Regions from separate parts of the Homo sapiens genome. Here regions 2 and 3 are each linked to region 1. The links come from fine-mapping of genetic effects on gene expression. A gene starts in region 1. Each other region holds a variant in brackets. All regions are shown on one strand. Distances are from middle to middle.

Region 1 (5,000 bases):
CAGACACTTTTAACAGATTAAATGCAGAGTGTGATTATTTACATAGTAAGAACTAGAAAAGAATTTCTAAAATGTTCCTCAGAAGTAAGCATCTTCTAATATATACACATACACACACACACATACACATACGTGTGTATAAAATTTTACATACTTTTTTAAAAACAAGTTTTTTTCCCCTTTTGGAAAGAAAGAAGCACATGTATAACTGAGTATGATTTCCTGTGTCTGAACTCAACCTGCACTGAACTGAACTGTTGCTGCACATTTTTGGGAATCACGATTTGAAATCGGCATACTTCAGGGCACCTTCCTTGAGTGGGTCACAAAACACAACTCCACTTTCTCCACCTCACCTAACCCCATTCTTGCATCTCATCTATACTATCAGGGAGACCACTTCAGTGAGACCACTGAAACCTCAATTCAATGATCAGACTCTTGTCACTCAACAACAGGTCATCTTCTACAGACCAAGTCTGCTCTGCAAAACACAGCATGATCTAAATTCCATTTGCAATTTTTTTCCAAGTATTTGTGTGTGTATGTGTATGTATATATATATGTGTGTGTATATATATATGTGTATATATGTGTATATATATGTATATATGTATATATATGTATATATATATTTGTGTGTGTATGCAAAGTATCAGAAAAATACACACTGAAATGTTAATTGTGGTTATTGCCTGGAGTAGTAGACTTATGTGTAATTTTTTTCTTTTTTTGCTTGTCTACAGCTTCCAACTTTTTCTATATTAAACATAAAAGAAAAATAAGTTACATCCCATATGTGTATTTTTTTACTCTTTCTGATTTCAAAAAGAATTCTGAAAAAAATTCTTTAAAGAAAAAGCAACAAGTACACAAAGATTCCTTTCAAAGTGAGGGCAGTTAGAGACAAGGGCAAGAAGAAGAGCAACATAACCTCAAGAAGCCAAAGGTTAAAACTCACCAGCATGCAAGTGCCAGTGTCATATTTATTGGCTGGAGGGAGGAACACAATTGGCTCTAAGTTTACTGGCTTCCATAGAACATTCCTCCCCATCCTCTTCACCTCACCCCCACCAGCCTTAATTAAGTTTTGTTTAGGGAAAGATGAGAATATTTTTCAGCATTCCCTGAACTCACTCCCACATGAGATCACATGGTTCCTGAAATGTGTTCAGGGAGAAGGAGCTAGCTGCAAACACAACCAATAGAGCCCTAACTATACTAACCCACTGACTCCAGGGGAAAGTGTGTCTGCATACACCAGCTCAGAACCCCCAAAATGGCATTGCTTTAATTTCCTAAAGATGCCTCTCTGTGTGCAATTCACTGCTTATGAAGGCAGTGGCAAAGGACATTCAGTCCATGACAAGACCATATCTGGGAGCTTCTAGGGCCATTTCAAGGCCAAGGCACACTTTAATGGAGAGGTCCCAGAAACAGTGCTTACCATAAGCTGTCATGACTCCAGCGTATGGCCCATCCACCACATTCCTGTTTTCTTCTGCCAGTGCCTTGATGTACCTTTTGCTGAGGTCCAGGATCTGCTCGCGCAGCATGGAGCTGCTTTCAGGCTGAGTTCGCTGCTGGATGGTAAAGTGCAGAAGCATCATACCCCAAATGAAGCCAAAAGTCACCAGGAAAAAGCCCAGCTTCTGAGAGGACAACTTCCACGGAGTGAAGAGAGCCATTGCTCTCTGGCAACTTCACCTGTCCTTGGCTCTTAACGCGTAGAAGATAGACACAAATTCATGGTGTAGGTTGAGTGTGAGAGTCTGCTGGTCTCACTCTGGCTCCTGTGTCAGCTGGTTGCCTTTCCTCACTTCCATTCTGCTGTGAAGGAGGAGAAGAATTAGCCAAGTGGTCATGGCACAATACAGCAAAATAAACCAGAAGCCATGTTTTCACTTGAATACCTCTAAGTAAAATGTCAACTCTTAAATTTGCTGGTTCAATATCTTATGATTCAGGAACTGTAAGCTGAGGGGAAATCTGGCTAGGCAACAAGAAGCTAAGCAATTATGAAGGGGGAAGTGTGCGTCTGCGTGTGTTAACAGGTGTAGTGGGGCTGTTCCAGCCTGGACCAAATTCAAAACAGGAAGTTTGTTTTGCAAGGTGGGGAGGAGACAGAAGGATATTTGGCGGAATGTCAGCAAAAACGGGGAGGGTGGAGTCATATCACCATCAGGCCCTTTTGTGTGCCTGTAACTTAAGCTTACAAAGTCATTATTATGTGCTTCTGGCAAGGACTAGAACATGCAACTGGTGAGGTGAGCAAGAAAGTGGATGCCCCCTTGGGGGTAACTAGACAAAGAAGAGGTAGATTGCTACATCTTATTTGAGCATGGCCAGCTTTCACCATCAGTGTTTAGTGATGAGATGGCTCTCTCAGGGCCACCAGGCAACCTCTCTAGGTGCACCAGCACAGAGAAGATATGCCAGAGGTACAAGCAGGGGTATTGCTTTCCCAGCTACATGAGGAAAAGGTACACCTCACTGCTCACTTGCATGCTGTAGCACAAGAAATGTGGAACACCTGGCAGGCAGATTTTCTGTGGTTCTCACTTTCACTCCCACCATGAGGCAAAATGAGACATTAAAAGGCAGAGTAGTTTCAATATTAATGCAGCCAGATCCTATCTAATGCCAGCACAGACCAGGCCACTCTTCTCAATCAGGGCTTCCCAACAAGTAGGACCTGAGCATAGGTTGCAAATGGTTACCAGCATGCCCACCCCTTCAGCCAGAGTCCTGGGCCCAATACCAGTCAGCTTACGAATAGCGCCATTTTCTAAGTGCCACTCAAGGGAGAGGCTGAGCAATGATCCGATCCCTTATAAGAGACTAACCCAGGCTGTACTTCAGAGTGTACATACATGCTTCAGTCAAAGGATTCTTCTTTGCAAGCGGCCCAAAAGAAAATGGTAGCAGGATCTTGAAGCAATTAGCTTTCAGAGCCCTGGATCACTGTTGGTCTGCCTCTTACTGTTTTCCCATTGCCTATCAACAGAGTAAAAATAAATTATAAATTCTAGCTATATCCCAGATATTGTGACATACCATCTTTTGTGGCTTTGCTCACTGAATCCTCAGAAGTTCTATATGGTAAGAAGTATGAATATTATCGTCTCTGTTTTATTAGAAACATGAGAAAATAAAGGTAAAAGGTGATTAACTTGGCAAAGGTCAGCCAGCTATGTGGCAGAGGACTGATCATCTAGGCATGGCCCAGGGGTTATTAAACCATGCCCCACCTTCCCTACATCATCCTCACTCCCCCAACAGCCTGTTTGTATATGGCAGAGAATGATATATATATGCTTAATGGGTCATGAAAAGCAATAAAAAATATGTAACAGATACTCTTTGTAGCCCAGAAGGCCTAAAATATTTACTATCTACCTCTTAACAGAGAAGGTTTGCCAACCTCTCAATTCTAGACCAGTGGTTCTCCAAATGTGGTCCCAAACTCAGTAACAGCAGCATCACCAGTGAGAAATGTGAATTCTCAGGCCCCACCCACACCCACTGAATCAGCAACTGAGGAGATGTGGTCCACAGCCTATCCTTTAACAAGCCTCGAGGTGATTCTGATGCACACTCATGTTTCAGAGCCCTTGACCAGGCAGCCTGATTCCAGACCCATACATTCCATCACTATTCAACACCCACCACAATGCCTATTAAAATGAGGCTCAACCTCTGTCTTGTACTATCATAACGTAAGTTCCTCTGCCCCATCACACCCCTCTCCCACTACGTACCTGCTGGTCTGCTCATTACCATAAACCCTGCACATGCTTCCTGAGAGGCTTCCCCTTCTTCACTCGGCTGCTCCTCCCACCCAGCTGGCACATGAGTGCTCTCTATTATGCTGACAATCAAACCCAGCCTGTTTGCCAGACCCCAGCTCTAGTCCCACCACCTGCCTCAGACCACTTTCCCCAGGGCTCCAGCCTGCAGTGTTCCTTTCCTAGTCTTACAACACTTCTCTGACAATGGAATACTATTCAACCAGAAAAAGAGAGAGAAATCCTGTCTTTTGCAGCAACAGGGATATACCCGAAGGACATTATGCTAAATGAAATAATCCAGGCACAGAAAGGCAACTACCGTACAATCTCACATGCAGAAGCTAAAAAGTTGCTATCATAGGAGATAACAGAACAGTGGTTACCAGGGGTGGGGAGGAGAGAGGGGGATGAGGAGGGAGTGGTCAATGGGTAAAAAGTTACATTTAGGAGGAATAAGTTCTGGTGTTCTATTGCACAGCAAGGTGACTATGGTTAATAATAACGTATATTTCTAAAAGAGACAATTTTAAGTGTTCTCACCACAAAAGTAATAATTATTTGGGGGTGATGTGCATGCTAACTATCCTAATTTGATCATTTCACAATGTATATGTGGATTGAATCTCACATGGTACTCCATTATTATGTATAATTATTGTATCAAATTTAAAAAAATTTTTAAAACAGGGAATAAAGGAGTATTATGAGTTAAAAACACCTGTCTACCTTGGATTGTTCAAAGTTTCTATGTGGGACTCTATGACATCCTTTAGGGAGCCCCTCCCCACACACACACCTTCTCAGAGAAAGGCACTGACCACAGTGGCACAATAAAGTATCTGCTAAATGAATATGTCGCCTAGGGCACTACAGCACTTTATTCAGCCCTTCTAACTGCAGGCCAGCCAACTAGCACCTGCCCTCTTTCCTTCCTCCACTCCGCTCCGCGCCAAGTCTATATTGAGCATGAGCGGCCATCAGGCCCTGGTGACTGAACAGTGAACAAGATGGAGTTTCCACCCCATCAGAATTACACTCTGACAGCCACATTACGAACTAGGTGCTGCACCTAGCTCCAAGGGAATTGGCTTTTTTTTTTTTTGATAACCCATACTCATTACTCATTACTTAATTTTGAACCAGGGCTGAAGGAATTTTCCTAGAGCAAGCCAATGAGGTGCTACATCAAAAAAGGTGATTTTTCTTTCA
Region 2 (6,036 bases), 19 kb after region 1:
CAGTACTGCTTTTGTCATTGCAGGTTTGGTTTATATCTGGAAATTTAAAAAGAAAACTTCCCAGATTATTCTGCAAACATTTACTTATATCCTTCCCCCAGCCAGTGGAGCATCTCTGCTAGGAGGTGTCTTGCCTCCCATGACAGAGAGTAGAATCCAGAATGGCTGAGTGGGAAGTCTCACACGAGGGACTTAATTTCAGAGACATTAGGAGGCACAAGTAAAATTTAGGCAGTGAGCAAAACAATTCTTTTAGGGCTCAGCAGCCAAGTACAGACCAAGAGGGTAAAAATTCACACACACGCGCACACACACACACACACACACACACATATACTCCTTCTACATAACCTACCTATCCTACCTACCTCAAACTTGCAAAGGCTATCCTGAGGAAAAGGAGAGATTACTAGCACATTTGTTAGTTTAGAAAGATATCAAATCTTACTATTTTTCTCTTGCAATTATATTAAAGTGACATTAGAGTATCTTCCACAGGATGAAAACTATATAAAAGGGTGATAAGAGGCCAACTAGAGAGTTGCAACCTCATCAGACAAATATTCATGGAAGGGGCTTACTGGGTGCTCCCAATGATGCTAAAGTTTTGAGGAGAAAACACTGAGGGTACAAGACAGAGTCCCTGCACTTAGAAACATCCTCCAACCATGCACACACCCACCACCACTCCCACAGAGCAGCCAGAACATGCTGAAATCAGGGGCCCTATTGGCGTGTCCCTGTATTAGTCTGTTCTCACACTGCTAATAAAGACATACCCGAGACTGGGTAATTTATAAAGGAAAGAGGTTTGACTCACAGTTCAGCATGGCTGCCAAGGCCTCAGGGAAGGGGAAGCAAACATGTCCTTCTTCACATGGTGGCAGCAAGAAGTGCCAAGCAAAAGGGGGGGGAAGGTCCCTATAAAACCATTAGATCTTGTAAGAACTCACTATCATGAGAACAGCATAAGGGTAACCGTCTCTGTGATTAAATTACCTCCCACGACACATGTGGATTATGGGAACTACTAAGATGAGATTTGGGTGGGGACACAGCCAAACCATATCAGAGACTCTTTTGGGCTGCAGAGAAGCCTCAAGAGGTTTCATGGAGATCCTGTGGCCTAAACTGGGTCTCATCCCTTCATATCTCTCCAACTAATCTCAAGGTCCAGGCTAAACACCAGGAATAAAAGGTGAAGAAAAAGAAGTTCCTGGAACCACTGCCTGCAAGCTCCAAGCTTTCTCTGCAGTCATGGGACCCGTGAAGAACAACTCTGAACACTGCGCAGAGTTACAGGGCTAGGGGCAGAGCTTTGAACAAGCCACATCTCAAAACTTTGGTTTTGTATGCCCATAAAATTAAGCAGCAGAAATAGGTGGTGTCTGAGGCTCTTCCATTTTCAACTTAACTGAGAAAAACAGGTCTGTATTTTCCAGCTACTTGGATGTTTTCACTACTTCAGAATGATGACACTCACAGCCTAGAATGTGATCGTGGTAGGAAGGGGAGGGGGAGCAAGACAGAAACTGAGTTACAGTGAGAATTATAGATGAATGAAGTCATTATGCAAAACAGAAAACCAAAGCTAATTTGACTGTGCCCCCTCCCCTTTTATCCCTTGCCTCAAATACACTAAATCTATGTCACTTGCCTCTCATGACCACTAGATTTATAAGCCCATTAAAAATACTTCTATAATCACTCCATGCAAAAAAAAAAAACCCCTATTATTATTACAATGATTTAAATCCCTACAGCAGTACAGCAGGATCTGGGGTGGGGAGAGTTTATTAATACCTTAGCAAAACGTGCCATGAATACACCATTTGGATATTCATTTTTTTAAAGTGCCCTGATTTTTCCCAGGGTGTTCAGTTAACATTTAGCTCATGGTGTTACCGGCCCTGTCGATTGGGTTAGGTTATTTTCCTCAATTCCTCTGCTCTGTGGCTCTTCTCTCTCTCCATCAAAACCCACCCAAGGATCAAGCTGAGGTACTCGTTTCTCAACCCTCACTGGGTATCACGATCATGTTGGAAGACGTTTTAAATACAAATGGTAGCCCTCCCCAAGATCATAATTCAATTGGTCTACACAGGGCCAGGAAAGCAGTATAATTTAAAGCAATCCCAAGAGACTCTAAGGTGCAGTCAGAGTTGAGAACTATTGATCTAAGATAACCACCTTCCCAGGCAGATAAGTGGGTAGAAGGGTACTGAGGGAAGAGAAACAGGTATGAGGTCGGGGAGCATGGCAGGGGAGACAGGGGCTGTGTTGAACCAAAGACCAGGCACCCCTCTGATAGGGCAGCCACTTCTCAGCTCTAACCACCAGACAACTTGAGCTAAGACAGCCTGGGTTAGCTAGATCTTCCAATTTTCCAAAGAAGCCAGAAACCCAGAGTTTTGGTCAAATCTGTGTATTCTTAAATGCTGGTGCTAATTTAGATTAAAAAAAAAATTCTGGTGGTCCAAATAAAACGCATCTGCAACCTTCCTTACAACCACCACCCTAAGCACTTGAAGCTGGGGAGTCTTATAAAAAGACTGAGGCAAATATACAAGACCTTGAATTGAAGGCAGTTTACAATCTCACTCACCTGCTCAGTCCACCTCATGACAGGTGTCTGTTACTTTATCCTAATTGCTCAACTATTCTGGACTTTCTAAACAGCAGCTGGTATTGTTCTCAAATATTGACTTCTGCTAATCACTTTCAAAGGATTCTGAGCACTGGCTTCCAGCCCTCATTCACCACCCAACACAAGCTTGTGACTTAGTCACACCTTATTGCTAATCCCAAGAAACGAAGGGAATTTAAAAGCACCTGGTGAGAGAGAAGCAGGCCTCAGAATCCAGAAAGCCTAAGTGACTTGCCCAGGGCCACAAAGACTGTCAAGGTAGGGTGAACAAACTTGTCCCCGTTGGTCACCCTAGTTGAAGGACAGAGCCACATTGCTGTGTCTTATGTATGGACCCCCATAGTCTTATAATTCTTGATATATACATACATTTGACTTTTAGCTTTATGATCTGCTCCCTGTTGAGACTCAAACTTCTTGAAGGAAGAGATTCAAATCTTTCTGTGAACTAACTACTTAATATCTGTTGGGAAAAGTCCTTGTAGCCCCCTTGGTTAATAAAGATGGCTGCTGGTGGTGCCCTTGCAAACTATAGGCATCACTGCTCTAGGAGTCTCTTGGAAGAACCTGTAAGTCTTGACTCCCACCAACCCCTGCCCCCAATCCCCGGCTTCCTTCTCAGCCCCCAACTACTTCATCACATCAATAACAAAGTATGAGAAACACAGAAAAATGAAACACATGAGCAACTTTCAACTGACTGTTTCCTTCTCTCTTTAGACCACAAAGTCTCCCTGCTCTAATGAGATTATTACCCATCATGAAAGGACATAGCATCTAGCGTTCTGATTTCTCCACTCAGAGATACACCTCAGAAGGCAGCTTCTCAGCTGTGAAAGAAGTTGGCCTTTGCAATCCTCTCTTAGAAGTCTGCTTCGGAATTATTCAAGAGAGCCAGAGTCAAACCTAGAGTGTTGTGCATGAATAGAGAGGCAATCTGGTGTGGCAGAGAGGCTTGGGAATTAGATTCAGATTAAAATCTCTGCACTGACATAAGCCAGCCCTGTGCCCTCTTGAAGTTACAGAAATGAAGATCCAGTTTCCTTATCTGTAAAATGTCTACCTGCAGGGTTTAAATTTGCAAAGGGCCTAGTCTAGTGACCGATCCTTGATGAGAGTTACTGGAGAAGTCTCATGACTCCTACAATGAGCCCCAGAGGCCTCTGTGAGTAAGGTGGAAGGACCTAGCCTTCTGCCTGATCTAAATACATTAAGATCTGCCTTTGCTGACCTAGTTTTATTCTAAAGCAGTTGTGGTTTTCTTTCTTCCCTTCAGTTCCTTTTCTCAAAGGATGTAAGCATATCTGTGTGAAACACATAAAAAAAATGCACCAAGTGTCAGCAAAATGTTACTG[T/C]AACTGATAAAAAGGCATTTTCTATCTTGTCCATCAGTTTTGATGAGGAAGCAAAGCAGACTAGCCCAATTCCTAGCATTGGTAAAGATTGCTACTTCAAAGAATTTTCTGGGTCAGCACCTAAAAGTCTGAAATCCATTCCACTGAATTCATTATGACCCATAGTAATACCCCATCTCTCAAAGCAAAACTACACTGTGATTCATTGCATAGAGCCATTCCCTGGTAGACACTATATTTTAGACTTATGAATAAAACAAGTACAGAAAACAAAATAAAACACAGAACCAGCCCTGTACCCTTATATTTTACAATCTACAAAAAACAAAGTCAGATTTACACATACCTGGAAAACAACTCACGATGACATCATTTTAAGCTAACTGAATCTTGGATTCAAGAAGAATCAATGTCTATACTATTCTTCTAGCATAAAACCTGTTGTGGCAGTTTTAACTTTTTAACTTAAGAAAGTTATGACCTTAGGTCACTAGACAGAATTACATTACTCAAATGTATTCTTGGCAAACTCTTTGGGGATATAATTCACTCTGCAAGGAAAAACTGGTAATTGCCACCAATATCTCACACACATGTACATACAAGAAGACACACCATAACACACCATAACAACCACCACCCACAGAATCAAGAAGACCCATGCCATTCTTAAATGAAAATGTGCACCAGTTAAGAAATAATCTAACATCTCAGGTTAGCAGGAAGTGCCACACTCCAACCTAACAAGAAAAATGGGCATTAAAAAAACATTACATAGGTCTGTGGTCTATTAACAGTAACCTGTTAGTATCAACTTCCTGGTTTGGTATTGTAACAGAGCATGAAATCTGGGGAAGGATGGGTCCGTGGGTCTCTTTGTACTGTTTTTACAACTTCCTGTGAAATTATTTCAAAATAAATTGTTTTCTAAGCATTACTTATTGGGTATCATCCTGTTTGGGGAGATTTTTCAAGATGTAGAAGCCCTTTCCCAAGGCCCCTCTTCAGCTAATGGGTCCAGAATAGGATATACACCTAAATACTTTGAAAAGGGTTCTGGTTCCTAGATGATCTGAAACTCCTCCCCTGTTGAGTAAGAACCACCACCAAATGGCAGGTAAATCACTGAAGACATTTAACAGTGCTGAGGCCACCATATTTGATATTGGCTGCTGTGTAGAGGATGGGTTTGAAGGGTGGCTCATGAAAATCCGGGTGAGAAATGAGTCCAATAAAGGCCTGAACAGGGTAGTGGCAGTCCAGTCATAATAAGAAACCAAATGCTAGAAATACTTAAGAGGTCAAATCAGCAGGACAGTGGGCAATGACTAACTGGAAGGAATGAGGGAAGACGAGGAGGAGGAGGAGGAGTATAGAATGACCACTAGGCTTCCAGCTTGGGCAGCTGAGGAAAAGGTGACATGTCATTCACCAAGACAGGAAAATGGAGGAGCTGGTTTGTGAGGGAGGATGGCTGCCTGAAGCTTCCACAGAGCAATAGTACTATATCATATATTGCAGACAGAACGATCTTTGTCTAGAGAGGTAATTCCTTCTTCCTCAACTCACTGGGTGTAAAGTACCAGGGGACAGACAACTCGGCACAGCAGGCAAGAAGGACCAGCCACTACTCAGCCATGTCAGCCACTTGGCCCCGCCCTGGTCTGATCATTTTCACAGCCAGCCACAAACCCAGTGATCTTTCCCCAAATACCTCCAGTGGGTAGAGAGCTACTCAACCAAGCTGCTCCCCACAGGTTCTAGAGGGTCTGGGTTTCTAACATTTCTATTAAAAGAACTCCAGAGGGTGAATGAGGGAAATCATCCATCAATAAATCAAGCAACTAATTATTTCACTTTGCCATAATCTCTTTAAGAAATGGTGTTCCAAAGTGAAAGGAAGAATTCCACATGAGAAGACATCAAGACAGCCTATGAAGATCTTGACATAGGAATTTGTACATTGCTACACAGGAAGCATTTACCACCCACCACAGAGGAATGCAGTTTATTTGATAATTATTTGTCTAGGTT
Region 3 (6,036 bases), 43 kb before region 1:
GAAATCAGAAGAGGGGATTTTAACTACCTTTACCAACACTTGTAGTTCATCTTGCTGAAATAAAGAAGATCCTGATTCAGACACACTGCATTTTAAAAAACAAAAAAGCTACAAAACCTTAAATACAAATCTCACTTCAATTTATTCAACTTGATGAAGGTTGCAATTAGCATTCCAAACCCTACCTTACCTGCAGGCCTAGCTCAAGCTCTCCTCTATCTGTGAAACTTCACAAGAGTACTCCAGCTCGCACAGGTACTTCCAGGGTGCCTGTGAACACCTATAAAATTTTTAGTCTATACTGAACAATCTAAAACTAAAAATCTGGTGTTGGCTTTGACCATCCTCTAATTGGAATTTGTTTGTGTGCAGAAATGCACATACCTACAAAGACTGCAAAGCCAGTGAGACCAACTTCCACAAAGTCAGTGGCCATGTGTCAGTCTGCTTTTGTATGCTCCAGAATAACACTGGCTCACAGAATTGACAGAGATTTTGTGGACTACAGATGATGATAGTGGTATTGACGCTTGGAAAGATATAAATTCTAGGGAAGAAGAAGAAACGATGGGCAAGTGTTTTTGGGCAAGAAGGAAAAGTACAATTGGGAAGATCTAGGTAAGAATATTATTCTCAAATGGGACACTAACTTTCACAAGAAAGCAGAAGAATTCTTATCTTCTAAATGTGACTTCCTTCTTCTTCCATTCTTCTTTTGACTTTTTCATTCAGAGGGAAGGTACAGTCTTAAATTGCTTTCATGCTTCCTGCCTGGAATCGTCTTTCATACAGAACACTCAACCAGCCCCAATCCCAACCCATGGTTCCTGCCTACATAAACACACTCAACCATCACCATTATGAACTACCTCTTCTCCAATTCCTATCCTAGACTAAGCTCTCAAGTATACTTCTGATCACATCTAATCAAAAGAGACTCCAGGAGACCACCCAAACCATCTGCAGTACCAAATTTATTGAAAACACCTTCCAACATCTGGAAATTCACAACTATATTTAGTTGATGTTGAATTATGATAAACAAGGATTTGTTACAACAGAATATGATCCGCATGGTGTCTAACTGCCCTAACAGCTCCTCTGATTTGCTGATCATTCTTAGGAGTGGAAAAAATATAAGTGACATAACTTATTATGAAAAGAAATAGTGTTCTAACTCTACATTTTTTATAAACACCATAATTTTTATTTGGTGATAAATAATACAGAGATAGGCCAGGCATGGTGGCTCACGCTTGTAATCCCAGTACTTTGGGAGGCCGAGGCAGGTAGATCACTTGAGGTCGGGAGTTCAAGACGAGCCTGGCCAACATGGTGAAACATCGTCTCTACAAAAAATACAAAAAAATGAGCCAGGTATGGTAGCATATGTCTGTAATCTCAGCTACTTGGGAGGCTGAGGTAGGAGAATTGCTTGAACCCAGGAGGCGGAGGTGGCAGTGAGCCAAGAGTACGCTATTGCACTCCAGCCTGGGAGACAGAGTGAGATCCTGTTTCAAAAATAATAATACAGAGATAATATTTTTCTCTATTATTTATACAAATAATTCAACATTAACCCAAAGAAATACACGTTCATACTCTAAAAGAAAATAACTGGTTTTAGAACCTCAATTTAGCTAAACAGAAAACAGAACAAAACTTAAGGATCTAGTAGACTTATTTTTTTAACCTATATTTGTTTTCCTCAATTTTTATCAGAAAAAAATTTGAAACATACACAAGGATACAGAGAATGATACAACAAATCCCTTCTACCCATCACTTAACTTCAACAGTTAACAAATATATTATTGAATAGAAGTGGCAAGAGTGAACAGCCTTGCCATTTTCCTAATCTTAGGAGAAAAAAAAAATTAAACAGTTCTTTTCTAGTAAGTATGATGTTAACCTGTATGTTTTTCCTAGTTTGTTGAGAATTGCTTTCATGAATCAGATTTTCTCAAATGCTTTTCTGCTTATATTAAGGTAACATGATTTCTGACCTTTGTTCTATTATGGAGTATTATATTAATAGATTTCTGAATGTTAAACCAACCTTGTGTTTCTAGAATAAATTCCAATTGTTCATTATATATAACCCTTTTCATATGTTGCCAAATTTGGGGTTCTAATATTTTAAGAATTTGTGTCAGTGTTTATAGGAGTTCATGGTCTGTTGTTCACTTGTGATGTCTTTGTCTAGCTTTGGTAACAGGGTGTTACTGGCAGAATGAATTGCAAGGTATTCCCTCCTTCTATATTTCATGGAAGAATCTGTGAAGAATCAGTGTCATTTCCTCTTAACATACCTAAAAGAATTCACCAGTGAAGCCATCTGAGCATGGGTTTTTCTTTGTAGGAAAAGTTCTAATTATTAGTTCAAATTCTTTGTTATTGAGCTATTCAGATGATTTTTTTTTTTTTTTTTTTTTGAGACCAGGTCTCAGTCTGTTGCCCAAGCTGGACTGTAGGGGCACAATCAAGGCTCACTGCAATCTTAATCTCCTGGGCTCAAGTGATTCTCCCACCTCAGCCTCCCAAGTAGCTAGGACCACAAGTGTGTGTCACCACACCCAGCTAATTTTATTTTTTGTAGATAATGGGGTCTCACTGTGTTGCCCAGGCTGATCTTAAACTCTTGGTTTCAAGCACTCCTCCCGCCTCTGCCTCCCAAAGTGCTAGAATTACAGGTATGAGCCACTCCACCCCACCTTCAGATGATTTTGAGTCAGTACAGATTGTGTCTAGGAATTTTTCCATGTCATCAAAGTTGTGTCATTTCATAGTATGAACTTATTCATTGTATTACCTTGTAATCTTTTACATTTATTTTAAATTTCTGCAATCTTCCCTTTTTTGGATTCTATATCTCATAACATTTGAATGCATATTTTTTTTCCTAATCAAATGTCAAGTCTATCTTAACAAAGTAAAATAACAGAAGAAAGAGAGGTTAAGTGGAATAGATTACAATGTCTGCAGAAACAAGGTCAGTTGTATAAAAAGATTTTCTATTTTTTACTGTCTCTTATGTACTTTATAAGACTAAGGAAAGTGGTTTTCTTTCAAGTACTATAATTAATTCCTGGGGTGAAAGGGAAAAACAAGACAAGGGGAAAAAAAGAGGAAGCAAAAGAACCA[T/C]AGGTTTAGTCATATGCTACAAAGGAAAAAAAAAGAATATTTAACCTTCCATCAATAAAAACTTGAAGCCAAGGATAAAAAGAACAGGAAATTCACAAAAACTGTTAAGAGCCAGGCAGCCACTCCCTCGATACCAAACCAAGTAATTTAATATTCGGCATTTCTTTAATGCCCATAAATTCCAGAAACTGACTCCCAGGTCCAGCTAGTTTTATATGGTGGTAATAACTTTTAAAATTGTGTGTTATTTTTTAAATTCCATGTGTCCATCCCCAATTCTCTGACACAGCCACAAAGAAAACATGGTAACTAAACTAGAGTCGACTTGGCCTACCCAGCTACATGAAATTCCATGAGTTTAGTCTGTTTCCCATCCTCCTCTTTACCCCACCTCTTGGCCTAAACCGCCAAGATCACAGTATTTCAAGAGTCAAAATTCAAATAAGAACAAACATGTTTGCATGAGGCTGCCAAACACTCCTAGATGAAATCCTCTTCCCTTCCAAAGAATTTTACCTCTAATTTCCACCTCCCAAATAAAAATTGTAGTTATTTTTGGGTTGCACTACAAATAATAAAACCACAGATTCTTAGGGTTCAGAAGGAATGCTGTAAATCCACCGAACCCATCTCCCCACCCTTAAGCACTGTTTAGATTAAGACAGGGGAGTATCTGTTATATTAAGGCAAGAGGCTGAACTGAAACAGACTGCAACTTGGTATAATTCAAGCTTCCCAAAACCATTCCTGTCAGGTAGCAAAGCTGACCAAACAGTATTCCTGATGGTTCCAATAGAAACTCCGAACAGCCCTTTCCTGTTTGGCTGCAGCCAGCAACAGCACAGAAGAGCCACAAGCCAGCCACTACTGGCTGTTCTTGTCATCCTCGAAGAGAATCTGGGTGACAAGTCGAAATGGAATGAATACCCTTAAAGTGACAACAAAACTCCCTACTAAAATTATGACTGAGAATAAAAGAGAAGGCTAATCCAGAGGGAAAAATATTTTCAACATCATTGAAGATTTTTTTCCAATTATAACTTATTTCGCAGCTCTTATGTTTGGAAATTACTGCAAGAGGATCCTAAGATACCACATTTTCCCTGCCTAAGTGAAGAAAGCCACACAGTTGATTGGGCCTACTAAGCTCCCAATTCCACTGCCAACCTTAGTCACTTCTAGCACAATCCAGTTCTATTATGGCTATATTCAACTTGTAAGTACTTTCACCATAGTTTCTAGATTTTTCTGGCCATTCTCATTGTTCTTTTCTGGCATCTTCGAACCACTGAAGAGCCATCAAATGTCAATCAACATAAGGAACATCTAAACTATATACTAAAACCTACTGTTAGAAATGCTTGTTCCTCGGTGCAATAAAGAAATAGCACTTGAACATAAATTTAATTTCCTTAGCAAGGCCATTTTTACTTTCTACAGAAAGGGTACACTTGCCAGCAGTTTTGCCACGATAGTACACCGAACAAAGGAGGCAGGGTCATTTATAAGTTGACGCGTCCACCTTACTGCTGTGTCCAGTTTCCATTGGCTGGAACAGGACCTCACATTCTGTATTTGTCCTGATTGGCTAGCAACTTAGAACATTTTAAAAGAGGCAAAGGCAGAGGAGAACAAAGGAAAGAGGAAGTAACTTGTGAAATGCTGAGAAAGGTAAAAACACATTTAAATAAGGAAGAGGAACAGACTATGACCTAATGCTTGCTTGGACCAGTATAAACATACTTATAAGCAAATATTTAGGCTAAATTGTGGGAGCTAAGAACATAAAGTACATTGATTTCTTTATTACGGCTAGCAGATATTTAAGAATGTTAGCACAGGTCTTTGAATAAATTTTGCTTCTAAGAGAAGTTACTATTTATTCTTAATTAGACGGGGAGGAAAGTCTTTGAAGAGGAACCTCTATTTTTTACACCTACCTTCTATAAAACCAAGCCCTTGGCATTCACAACTACAAATCCCCTTACACAGAACTTGACCTGCAGTGGTATATACCTGGAACAAAAATCCTTGGTTAGACTGTATGTATTTCTAAATTTGTCTCAGAAATATGAACATCATACCCCGAATACTTAGTCTTAGTGGTTTGTGAGGCAAAATCACCCAGCAGCTCCAAAAAGCCCCTACGTTAAGACCTTATATTAAGACTTGGAAACATGAAAATAAAAATAAAAACACTGAAAACAAAAAGTTACTTTACTGCCAGTGCAGAGATCTTCCCATGACTTAACAGGTCTATGGGGCTAAACCGCAGAGAACAATGGATGCCTTATTTACCTGATGATGCCTAAAACAGTGCAGAATAGCCACCCTGGAAGGTAGAATAAAACTTCTCTCTCCTCCATTTGCCTCCTCACTCAGAGGCAAAAGATTTGAGGCTGTAAGAAAAGTGACACATCTTTACACTGAACATGCAGTGCTCCATGAGGCAATCTTTTCTAGATCCACCTAAAACAACTACGAGGAGTCTGGGAAGCCAACGAACAAAGGGGGCAAGTTACCTGCCTAGGATGTGGTCCAGCCCTCCTACCTCCCTACTCTGTTTCACATCCTCCACACACTTCTGTATGAGGAGAGGAGATGGTCTCATTTCATGCTAGCAAAGCCATAGTCGCAGACCTGGGAGCCATCACACATCATGGTGTCAGCCAACTGCAGACTCAAGGGGTTTGGCTGCTATCAAAATCTATAGTTTTCCAGCTTGGCTTTTCTTCAATTTAAAGCAAGGAAGCACTTTCGGAGGCCGAGACAGGTAGATCGCTTGAGCTCAGGAGTTTGAGACCAGCCTGGGCAACATGGTGAAATCTCATCTCTACGAAAAATACAAAAAATTAGCCAGGCATGGTGGTGTATACCTATAGCTCCAGCTAC

Direction of the effects. Positions count from the first base shown, and alleles are read on the strand shown. Sizes are in standard deviations (SD) of each study's normalised expression. Not every link is listed here.
For the expression in activated naive CD4 T cells of the gene that starts at base 2,020 in region 1, allele C in region 3 goes with a higher level than allele T (large effect, 0.88 SD a copy in Schmiedel 2018).

What was found. PIP is the estimated chance that this variant, and not a neighbour inherited with it, causes the effect.
Region 2: its variant is the best candidate, but not a certain one, in a credible set for the expression of MGAT5 in whole blood (INTERVAL, PIP 0.66).
Region 3: its variant is the best candidate, but not a certain one, in a credible set for the expression of MGAT5 in activated naive CD4 T cells (Schmiedel 2018, PIP 0.89).

Annotation. Positions count from the first base shown.
Region 1 is chr2:134,251,092-134,256,091 of GRCh38, reverse strand. MGAT5 (alpha-1,6-mannosylglycoprotein 6-beta-N-acetylglucosaminyltransferase) reads right to left here and starts at 2,020. Exons shown (of 16, transcript NM_002410.5): 1 at 1,448-2,020. The coding sequence starts at 1,688. RefSeq lists an enhancer at 4,875-4,964.
Region 2 is chr2:134,231,420-134,237,455 of GRCh38, reverse strand. It overlaps a transcript of MGAT5 not described here. Among named protein-coding and RNA genes, the nearest start is that of MGAT5, 20 kb to the left of the region's middle. The variant T/C (reference allele first, on the strand shown) is at 4,003.
Region 3 is chr2:134,293,596-134,299,631 of GRCh38, reverse strand. The region is part of intron 2 of MGAT5 (alpha-1,6-mannosylglycoprotein 6-beta-N-acetylglucosaminyltransferase); the gene reads right to left. Among named protein-coding and RNA genes, the nearest start is that of MGAT5, 43 kb to the right of the region's middle. The variant T/C (reference allele first, on the strand shown) is at 3,145.